Regions from separate parts of the Homo sapiens genome. Here region 2 is reported to be linked to region 1. The links are microRNA targets in miRTarBase. Many come from high-throughput screens and were not tested one by one. Region 1 holds a microRNA gene; the other region holds the end of a gene's coding sequence.

Region 1 (5,000 bases):
TTGCCAGTTTATTTCAGCAGACTCAAACTGTCAGAGTGGAAGGGAAAAATTCCCTTCACCCTTACAATCATCTCCTCACCTGCCCTTCCCTGTTCTCTGTGCCTGCCCCCTCCAGTCAGCTATGCCTCTTGACTGGCAAATTTCTGTGTTCTCCCTGTTATCCAGGCCCACTCAAAACAAAAAACTGCAATTCTTCCCTCATGTCTTCCTCTCTGCTTAGCAGCTAAGTCCCTCCCTTCCATTTCTATTTTTTTCTGACTGCTATTTTAGAACAAAGTGGCATAGTGCGGGAAAAAAATGAGGATTTTAGAACAAGACAGGCCTTAGTCCAAATCTTAGGTCTACTATATTTTGGCTTCCTTGGGTAAATTACTAACCTCTCTAAGGCTTAGTTTCCAAGTCTGTAAAATGGGGATATTACCCACCCTGTGGAGGCGCTATGACTTAAGTATGCATCAAGTGGTAAATAGAGGGTCCTTTTCTTATTTTCACCTCATATCAGACACCTCCTGCTCAGAAACCTTCAGAGGTTGCCCATCACTTGACTATGACACCTAAGCCATGCATTTTGCATTTTGGCCCCTCTCTCTCATCACTCTTCCCCCCAATTACTGGGGCTTGGACTAATCAAAAACATTGGTTGATGGCCAGGAGTGTTGGCTCACATCTGTAATCCCAGCACTTTGAGAGGCTGAGGCAGGTGGATCACCTGAGGTCAGGAGTTCGAGACCAGCCTGGCCAACATGGCGAAACCCTGTCTCTATTAAAAATACAAAAATTAGCTGGGTGTGGTGGCAGGCTGCTGTAATCTCAGCTACTTGAGAGGCTGAGGTGAGAGAATGCTTGAACCCAGGAGGCGGAAGTTGCAGTGAGCCAAAATCATGCCACTGCACTCCACTCCAGCCTGGGCAACAGTGCAAGTCTCAAAAAAAAAAAAAAAACCAAAAAAACAGGCATGGTGGCTCACGCCTGTAATCCCAGCACTTTGGGAGGCCAAGGTGGGCGGATCACCTGAGGTCAGGAGTTTGAGACCAGCCTGACCAACATGGAGAAACCCCATCTCTACTAGAAATACAAAATTAGCTGGGTGTGGTGGCACATGCCTGTAATCCCAGCTACTCGGGAGGCTGAGGCAGGAGAATCCCTTGAACCCGGGAGGCGGAGCTTGCGGTGAGCCAAGATCGCGCACCATTGCACTCCAGCCTGGGCAACAAGAGCAAAACTCCGTCTCAAAAAAAAAAAAAAAAAAAAAAAACAAAAGGCTGATTCCATTACTCTTTCCTCTTTCCTCCCTGCTTTCACTTTGCCGTTCAAACCAAATCCTTCTTGATTAGCTCAGCACCAAGTACTGGCTCCCTCCTCAGCCATCCCTATGTGTAGTTCAGTGGCACTTGGGGCCAACTGCTTGTCTTACAGATTAGGCAACTCTAGATTACAAAGCACTGAAAGCAGGGGCTTCATCTGGTTGGTCTTTGACCCTGCAGAGCCCCTTGCACACAGGTGATGCTCAATAAATACTTGGTGAAAGCACAATTCATTTTCTGTGTTTCAATGGGCTTCTTTTCTCTATAGAATCAGATGCTTGGTTATTCTCACCTCAGCGCTATTTTGTTGGCTTCCAGAAGGCACAGTAACGCTAGGTGTGTTGTGTTCTATCCTTTAATTGGAAGAGCTTTGGGAACTGAAAAATAAGAATTATTTCTCCAAGCCTCATCTTCTGCCACTCCCCCGTACTCACCGGCCTCATACAGGAATTGAACTACTTAGCACTGCACAGAACACGACTTTCTCTCTCACGCCTCCGTTCCTCTGTACTTAGCCTCTGTACTTACGTGCCATTCCCTTTCCCTGAAATGCCCTTACTCTGGCTTCTCTGCCTGGCAAATTCCTACTCATCCTCCAAGACTCAGATCAGACATCGCCGCATCACATCTGTGAAGGCTCTTCTGCAATGGGCAGTGTAGCAGTACCCCCTCCATTTTTTTAGCTTCCTCAGCAAACTCCAAATAATTATAACAGTACTTATGGCATTATTTGTTTATTTTTCTTCTACTTCCTAGACCGTGAATTCCTTAAGGGCCAAGATTTCTGTTCTATCCCCAGCACAGTGTTCGGCCTATATTGGAGAATCCGGTCCGTACAAACTCTGCAGTGATTCAATCAATGAGCAAACAAACTCACCAATCATTCAACACAGCAGAGTTTGTACGGACCGGATTCTCAAATATTTTAAGACCTGGTCCTCTATTTGGAGTGCTTCATTCTGGAAGATCTCTTCCTCCCCCAAGCCCCTACCCATCCAACTGCCTAGGTTTGGTAGAAGAGGAAAATAAAGTGATTAGACGGGGGAAGAGTCCTTCAGGGCTAAGCTGTCATTTACCCGCTCTGGCACCGAGAGGGTTACGGCGACCCGGGGGCGGAGCCGTGCGGAGGCCACCTGCTGCGGGGAGGTCTGGCGCATGCGCCCTGACACCTAGCTGGTTCCCTACCCGCAGGGGCCCGGCTGAGGAGGAGCGCTTGCGCTCTGGGCCTTTTCCGCCGGGGGAAGTCTCGCGGGGGCGGGGCGGGGCCTCGTGGAGAAGTTCTCGCGGGACACCGACGGGGAGCGGAAGCCAGGAGGTATTGCTGCTTCGGCGACCGGGCGGCGGCAGCGGCGGCGGCGGCTGTGGCAGAGTCTGTGCCTGTGGCGGTGACGGCGGCGGGAGCAAGCGCTGCCCTCGCAGAGCAGCCTTGGGGTCGCCGGCCGCTCGCAGCGTTGTGGAGGGGCGGGCCGGACGCTGAGCGGAGCAGCTGCGCCACGGTGAGTACGGGAGGCTGCGCTCGGCGCCTCTCTCGTGCCTTTTCCTCTTGGCTCTACAGCGGGAGTGGGCCCCGGGGGAACCGGGACCGGCCCCGGGGTTCGCGTCGGGGCGGCGAGGCTTGGGACGTGGAGCGCAATCCCCGGGGCTCCGGACTCTACGTTTCCCCTTTTGGGGCGCTTCCTTCCTGGGGACCGTCCTCCTCCGGCTCTTGGCTCTGGGCAGTCCGGGGGAAGAGGTCGGGGTTCTCTGGCGAGGTCCCCTGCCTTCATCGGGAGGGTTTGCACGGAAGGGGCCCGGGAAGCCCAGGCGGGCCGAACGCCGACCGAGTCAGTCTACCCGAGCCTGGCGGCGGGGGACTGGTGTGGGCTGCAGCTGTGGTGATTGATGTGCCTTCGACCTGCACGGCAACCACGTCACCATCTCCTGGCGTCTTTGGGCTTAATTTTGTGCGGGAATCCACTTTGGGGTGGAACGTTTGCTGCTGGAGCCGGGGGAGATACCTTTATTCTGACACTTAAAAAAAAAAACTATTTGAAAAATATTTGTCAAGAAAAATTCAGCAGTAGCAGGTTGGACTGCACCGAGGAAGGATTGCGGCGAGAGCGGGCGCTGGTAATTTTCATTTGCAGCGCGCCCTCTCTATGATTGTAAGCCACACATGAGTTATGGCTTGTTTAGAAAGTTTTTCAAGGCTGGCTTCAAACGCTGTGAAAGTGCAGTTTGCAGGGGACTGAAGTGCACTTGAGGTCTGTCTCTTTTTGATGCTGTTGACTTTCCGAAATGTCAGACACATGAGAGAAATTAGCATTAGTCTATTTTGGCTTTCTTACTCCTCTTTCTCCAGTTATTTCCTTCCTTCTCTATCTGCTTCTGTCCTTTCCACTAGGGACACGAAATGCTTGTGTAATGCAAGTCATTTGCCCCTTCCTCCCCCCACCCCCCCCTTTTTTTCTAATGTACTTCCCCTTCCTCCTTGTAGTCCCCACTCTGGCGTAATTTTTCGAGGTTTCTTCCCTTTCGTGCTGTTCGTTTTCTCTCATTTCAAGATTCCGTCTTTTTCCTCGGGAAGAGACTCTCTTTCCTTGCTTTCGTTCCTTTACTTTTGCGCGTCCCCTGCGTTCCCTGCAGTCAGCCAGAAGGGTTGCTAGAGAGCCGTGGGAGGCTGAAGTCCCCTCTCTGAGAACGGGGAGGCTCAAAAGATTGAATTCATCCCTAAGAAATCAGTCCTGCCACTAGGTCGCAAGTGTGGTTTGCTTGTATTATTTTTGTCTTTTACTCTTTTTCTTTTAAGATTATGCTTCTGTGCCTGCTTATGTTTTCTTCTAGTATGTCTTTATAATAGGAAGATTGGGTCAGCTCAGTGACTTTTTTTTTTTAGGCAGAGTTTTGCTCTTTTTGCCCAGGCTGGAGTGCAATGGTGCTATATGGGCTCACTGCAACTCTGCCTCCTGGGTTCAAGCGATTCTCCTGCCTCAGCCTCCCGAGTAGCTGGGATCACAGGCGCCCACCACCATGTCCAGCGAATTTTGTATTTTTAGTAGAGATGGGGTTTCACTGTGTTGCCCAGGTTGGTCTTGAACTCTTGACCTCAGGTAATCCACCCGCCTTGGCCTCCCAAAGTGTTGGGATTACAGGCGTGAGCCACCGCGCCCGGCCAGAGTTAATTCTTATAATCAGCTTTCTTCTACTAAACACAAGCATTTATTTATTTATTTTATTTTTTTGAGACGGAGTCTCGCTCTGTCGCCCAGGCTGGAGTGCAGTGGTGCGATCTCGGCTCACTGCAGCTTCCACCTCCTGGGTTTAAGCGATTCTCCTGCCTCGCACTCCCGAGTAGCTGGGATTACAGGTGCTCACCACCACACCTGGCTAATTTTTGTATTTTTGTAAAGACAGAGTTTCACCATGTTGGCCAGGCTGGTCTCGAATTCCTGACCTCAAGTGATCTGCCCATCTCAGCCTTGGGATTACAGACATGAGCCACTGCGCCCGGCCTGAACTCAAACGTTTAAATGTTTGAGGCACTTTACTTCGTCAGCAAGTTATTCAGATTTGAGAGGCTTGCTGGGTTTTAAATACTACTGGTTGATGGTACTTAGAGATTCTTCTCAGTAATTGCTGTTATCATGTTGCATGTTGTCCATCAGAGTTCTAATTGTTACACATACAACAGAAGAGGAATGGATTTTGGAGAAATGA
Region 2 (5,085 bases), not on the chromosome of region 1:
TCTCCCCAGAACCGCTGTTGTCCCGGATGGGCAGCCTGCGGGCTCCCGTGGACGAGGACCGCCTGTCCCCGCTGGTGGCGGCCGACTCGCTCCTGGAGCATGTGCGGGAGGACTTCTCCGGCCTCCTCCCTGAGGAGTTCATCAGCCTTTCCCCACCCCACGAGGCCCTCGACTACCACTTCGGCCTCGAGGAGGGCGAGGGCATCAGAGACCTCTTCGACTGTGACTTTGGGGACCTCACCCCCCTGGATTTCTGACAGGGCTTGGAGGGACCAGGGTTTCCAGAGATGCTCACCTTGTCTCTGCAGCCCTGGAGCCCCCTGTCCCTGGCCGTCCTCCCAGCCTGTTTGGAAACATTTAATTTATACCCCTCTCCTCTGTCTCCAGAAGCTTCTAGCTCTGGGGTCTGGCTACCGCTAGGAGGCTGAGCAAGCCAGGAAGGGAAGGAGTCTGTGTGGTGTGTATGTGCATGCAGCCTACACCCACACGTGTGTACCGGGGGTGAATGTGTGTGAGCATGTGTGTGTGCATGTACCGGGGAATGAAGGTGAACATACACCTCTGTGTGTGCACTGCAGACACGCCCCAGTGTGTCCACATGTGTGTGCATGAGTCCATGTGTGCGCGTGGGGGGGCTCTAACTGCACTTTCGGCCCTTTTGCTCTGGGGGTCCCACAAGGCCCAGGGCAGTGCCTGCTCCCAGAATCTGGTGCTCTGACCAGGCCAGGTGGGGAGGCTTTGGCTGGCTGGGCGTGTAGGACGGTGAGAGCACTTCTGTCTTAAAGGTTTTTTCTGATTGAAGCTTTAATGGAGCGTTATTTATTTATCGAGGCCTCTTTGGTGAGCCTGGGGAATCAGCAAAGGGGAGGAGGGGTGTGGGGTTGATACCCCAACTCCCTCTACCCTTGAGCAAGGGCAGGGGTCCCTGAGCTGTTCTTCTGCCCCATACTGAAGGAACTGAGGCCTGGGTGATTTATTTATTGGGAAAGTGAGGGAGGGAGACAGACTGACTGACAGCCATGGGTGGTCAGATGGTGGGGTGGGCCCTCTCCAGGGGGCCAGTTCAGGGCCCCAGCTGCCCCCCAGGATGGATATGAGATGGGAGAGGTGAGTGGGGGACCTTCACTGATGTGGGCAGGAGGGGTGGTGAAGGCCTCCCCCAGCCCAGACCCTGTGGTCCCTCCTGCAGTGTCTGAAGCGCCTGCCTCCCCACTGCTCTGCCCCACCCTCCAATCTGCACTTTGATTTGCTTCCTAACAGCTCTGTTCCCTCCTGCTTTGGTTTTAATAAATATTTTGATGACGTTTGGGCCGGGTTTTGGGACTCTGTTGGGAACATTTCGGGGCGGGAGAGGCCAAGGTTGCTGGGGAAATGCCCATTCTCCACTTCCCTTCTCCCTGTCCGTGCCCGATTTGATTTGAGCCTCATAACTCGAAGAAAGGTCAGCTTCCTCGCTGTTTTGGTCCTAACTCAAAAGCAGATCCAGTAAAGGTTTTTGTTGTAGAAAGCCAAGAATGCTATTCAGTGCTGCCCGAAGTGCAGAGTAATGAGTGGCCTCTCCTTTCCCCAGCCCCAGAGGCCACTCTGCTCAGTTTGCTGTCTTCCTTCCAGACGTTTCTGGACATTAGTAAACATGTAACAAATACAGTGGGCTGGTTCTGTGTCAGGTATTTAACAGTTCTGGGGACACGGGTGTTACCTCCTTTCATGGTGCTCTCAGGGTCTGAAAGAGGAGATCTGCATAAATGAGAAAATCGGGAAAGGCGTTCTGGAATGGGTGGTGCTTAAGCTGAGCGCTGTAAAATAAGTAGGAGTTAACCAGAGGAAGAAAACACCAAGCAGAGGACACGATGGGCAAAGGCCTTGGGCAGGAGGGAGCGGGATAGAGGACCGGAGAGAAAGCAGTGTGGCTGCGGTCCTGAGGTGAGGGTCAGAGTGGTGCTCCTGGAGTGGGGCGTTCAGTCTTAAGCTTTATTCAGGGGCCAAGGAGTCACTGGAGACCGAAGTGACACCTCCTCTTTCGCATCTTAAAAGCTCCCCCCGGCTGCTGTGTGGAGAACGGGTTGAAGGGAGGGCCAGAGTCACGGAGGGGAGGGGAAAGGGCTGCGCTTAGTGCCAGAGAGGGCGGGCGTCGGGATGCCTGGGATTCGGCCGCACGGACCTGTGGGCTTCCTCTGCGCCAGCCCCCGTTGTAAGCACTTGACATTGAATGAGTCCCAACAATTGCATAGGGTGTCTGCCAGTACCATTTTTGTAGATGAGGATACAGACGCCCCAAAAGGTGAAGTCCTGGTGGGTTTTACCCACTTGTGTCACCCTGACCTCGGCACTGGCTTGGTCATCCTGTCCCTCTGGGTAGGCCCGCAGCCCCTAGGTTCTGCTCCCGACAGGCCGTCGCGGGACCGGAGCCCTCGGGCGCCTCCCCCTCCGCCGTGGCCGCGGAAGCGCGGAGGCCCGCGGCGCTGGAGTTGGACCTTGAGGCGAGGGAACCCGGCGTCCGCGGGGGCGGGGCGGGGGCGGGGCCTGAGCCCGCGCGTCGGCGCCGGCGCCAAGGGGCGGCCTCTAGCCACACCGAGTCCGCCGCGGCGTCCAGGGTCGGCAGCAACCGCAGCCGAGCCCGAGCGGGTGGCGGCGCCATGGCGTGCGCGGGGCTGCTCACCGTGTGCCTGCTCCGGCCGCCCGCGCCCCAGCCCCAGCCCCAGACCCCGCGGCACCCCCAGCTCGCGCCCGACCCGGGGCCCGCCGGACACACGCTCTTCCAGGACGTGAGTGGGCGCGGGCTCTGCTCGCGGTGTCTCCCTACCCGAGTCTCTGTTAGTCTCACCCTCCGGGGTTGTTCGGGCCCCGCCGCTGTTTCTGGGTCTCTTCCCCTCTCTCTGGCCCTGCTGTTTTCTCTTGACCTTTCTGCCCTTGTGTGACCTGTTCTGTCTCTCCATGTCTCCTCTTGTCCCTGCTCCAGTGTCACTGCCCCTGCTGCCTCCCACCCCTCAGCCCACCCCATTTGTGTGTCTGGTGTTGGCGGGGGGCTGGCGACAATCACAGCAGCGGTCACCCCACTCTGTGGCAGCTCCAGGCTGGGCTGACTGGGGAAGGGGAGCCTGGAAACGCAAGGGCCCCTCACTCCTGACTCTAGTGCCGCCCCCAGAGTTCTTCAGGCCCCACTCCAGGGCAGCAGAGTCCTACAGTTGGTAAGGGCTGCTCAGAGTCACCCTCCCATGGGGCCATGGGTGGCCCTGCGGCCACCATGGGCACCAGCCACGGCCCTGAGCCCTTTCTCCACCGTTCACCGCTGTGCTCGGCTCTGTCCTGGCCCCCTCATGCCCCAACTCCAGAGGGAGGCAAAGCTGTCTCCCACCCCCTCCCCACTGCCCCTAGTGACTCAGCACCTTGACCACAGCCCTGGCTGGAAGGGACCTGACCCTCCTTCTTCCCAAGTAGGAAAACCAAGGCCTGAGGGGATATGTCTCAGGTCAGTCATGGAGGCAGGGATACAATAGGGTGACCCCAGATGTCCCCATTCCCAGCTTAGCACCCCTGCCCACTCCCAAGATCTCCATCTACCCTACCTGGGCCTCCCTGGCTTGCTGCGTGCCCCTCAGCCAGTGGCAGACCTTCTCTGAGTTAGGCTAGAGGTTAGAGTCTTTCCTGAGCCCCACTGACCCTGACAAAACAGGACCCTGGAGGGGGCTGGCGTTCAGGACCTGGAGTTCATGGGGGCTCTCGGCCCAGGCTTGGCCCACCCCTGCTTGCCAGGCCTGCCAGTCTCCCCTTTGCTGGGCTGCTTTGGGTGACCTGGGAGCAGGTCACTAAGAGAGACGGGGACCTGTCTTGACTCTGCTCCTCTCTGCCTCTGTTGCTCTTCATCTCCACTTCTCCATAAATGAAATCTGCCGAACTTGCCTTCTGCCACCCCCACTCCCCCTTGGACGTGTGTGTGTACACACACGCCTGCCGAAGGTCCTCAGAGTCAGCCCCATAGGAAGCCCCAGCCCTGAAAGAGTTAACCCCAGCTGCTCCTGATCTATTTGCTAGTGGGTAACTCAGGCGCCTGCAGAGACAGAGTAGCCACTGCCTGCTGTTGGTTTTCAACAGCACGCAAGGAAACAGCTCAGAGAGGGCAGCTGGGGTAGACCATGGCCACACAGCAGAGCTCGGGGCTCAGGTCTAGGACGGCTGTGCAAGATTCCTGGGCCACAACCTGGCCCATCTCCTCAACCTTCCTCAAGCTGGAACTGTGCCAGGGGCTGATGTATCAGATAGAACTTGGGCTGCACTCTGGGTGTGGGAGGTGGGGACGCAGGGGACTGGCCAGGAGCACCCCCCACGAGGCCAGGCCCTGCAGGAGAAGTGAGCAGAGGTGGCACCCGCTGCGTGCTCTTCCTGTGCCCCGCTTGCAGGAAAAGCTCCTGCAGGGCTGAGCTGGGCAGGTGGTTTGGGACCAGGCTGGGCGGGAGGAAAGGCGAGGCAGGGGGTAGGTCGGCCAGCTGGGACCCTGTCGGGTTGAGTGGGGGCCTCTGGCTTCCCAGGTGGCACTCACAGTTCTCTCTATGTCCCTTTGTCCTCTAGGTTTTCCGCAGAGCAGACAAGAATGGTGAGTGTGGCTTCCCCTGGGTCCCACAGTGGGGCAGGGTGGGAGGCATCCAGGAGGCCCAGGGAGAGTTGGGAGGTTGGGTGGGAAGTCAAGAGTTGAGACAAATCTTGGGGGCCCAAAACAGGAGAATCAATCAAGGCACTTCCCAGAGGAAGTGCTGTTCTCAGCCAAGTTTGGCAGGATGGAGAGTGGAGAGAATGTGGTTTGGCCACGGACTGGAGATAGGGGCTGACTTTCACACAGCACCCTGGCATGGTGATGGGCACTTCCTGTACGTGGCCCTCTGTTGTCCTCACAACCACCAGCTAGATTGGAATTCACCCTATTTCATAAAGGAGCAGAGGGCCAGAGAGGTGAAGCAAGTTGCCTAAGGTCACACAGCCTTTAATTGATAGGCTCGAACTTGGGTCTTTGCAGCATTTAATCCCAGGCTCCTTGTGTGAGGCACTTGGAAGAGTGAGGTAATGGAGATGAGGCCTTTTTGGAGATTTTAC

Evidence for each region. Region 1 holds the annotated microRNA hsa-miR-3678-3p (CUGCAGAGUUUGUACGGACCGG, at 2,131-2,152, opposite strand). A microRNA usually pairs through its seed, bases 2 to 8, with sites in the 3' UTR of a target mRNA and lowers its output. Matches are read on the target gene's strand: a 7mer-m8 pairs with bases 2 to 8, a 7mer-A1 pairs with bases 2 to 7 and ends in A, and an 8mer does both.
Region 2: miRTarBase lists E2F1 as a target of hsa-miR-3678-3p. Seed matches in the 3' UTR shown: 7mer-m8 at 301-307.

Annotation. Positions count from the first base shown.
Region 1 is chr17:75,403,289-75,408,288 of GRCh38, reverse strand. It overlaps MIR3678 (microRNA 3678), which reads right to left and starts at 2,220; the gene lies at 2,127-2,220. It overlaps GRB2 (growth factor receptor bound protein 2), which reads left to right and starts at 2,611. Exons shown (of 6, transcript NM_002086.5): 1 at 2,611-2,800. RefSeq lists a silencer at 2,374-2,553.
Region 2 is chr20:33,671,904-33,676,988 of GRCh38, reverse strand. It overlaps E2F1 (E2F transcription factor 1), which reads left to right. Exons shown (of 7, transcript NM_005225.3): 7 at 10-1,512. The coding sequence ends at 257. NECAB3 (N-terminal EF-hand calcium binding protein 3) reads left to right here and starts at 2,561. Exons shown (of 12, transcript NM_031232.4): 1 at 2,561-2,765; 2 at 4,567-4,591. The coding sequence starts at 2,637. RefSeq lists enhancers at 1,534-2,034, 2,705-3,252, 3,253-3,800, 4,349-4,898 and a silencer at 2,221-2,850.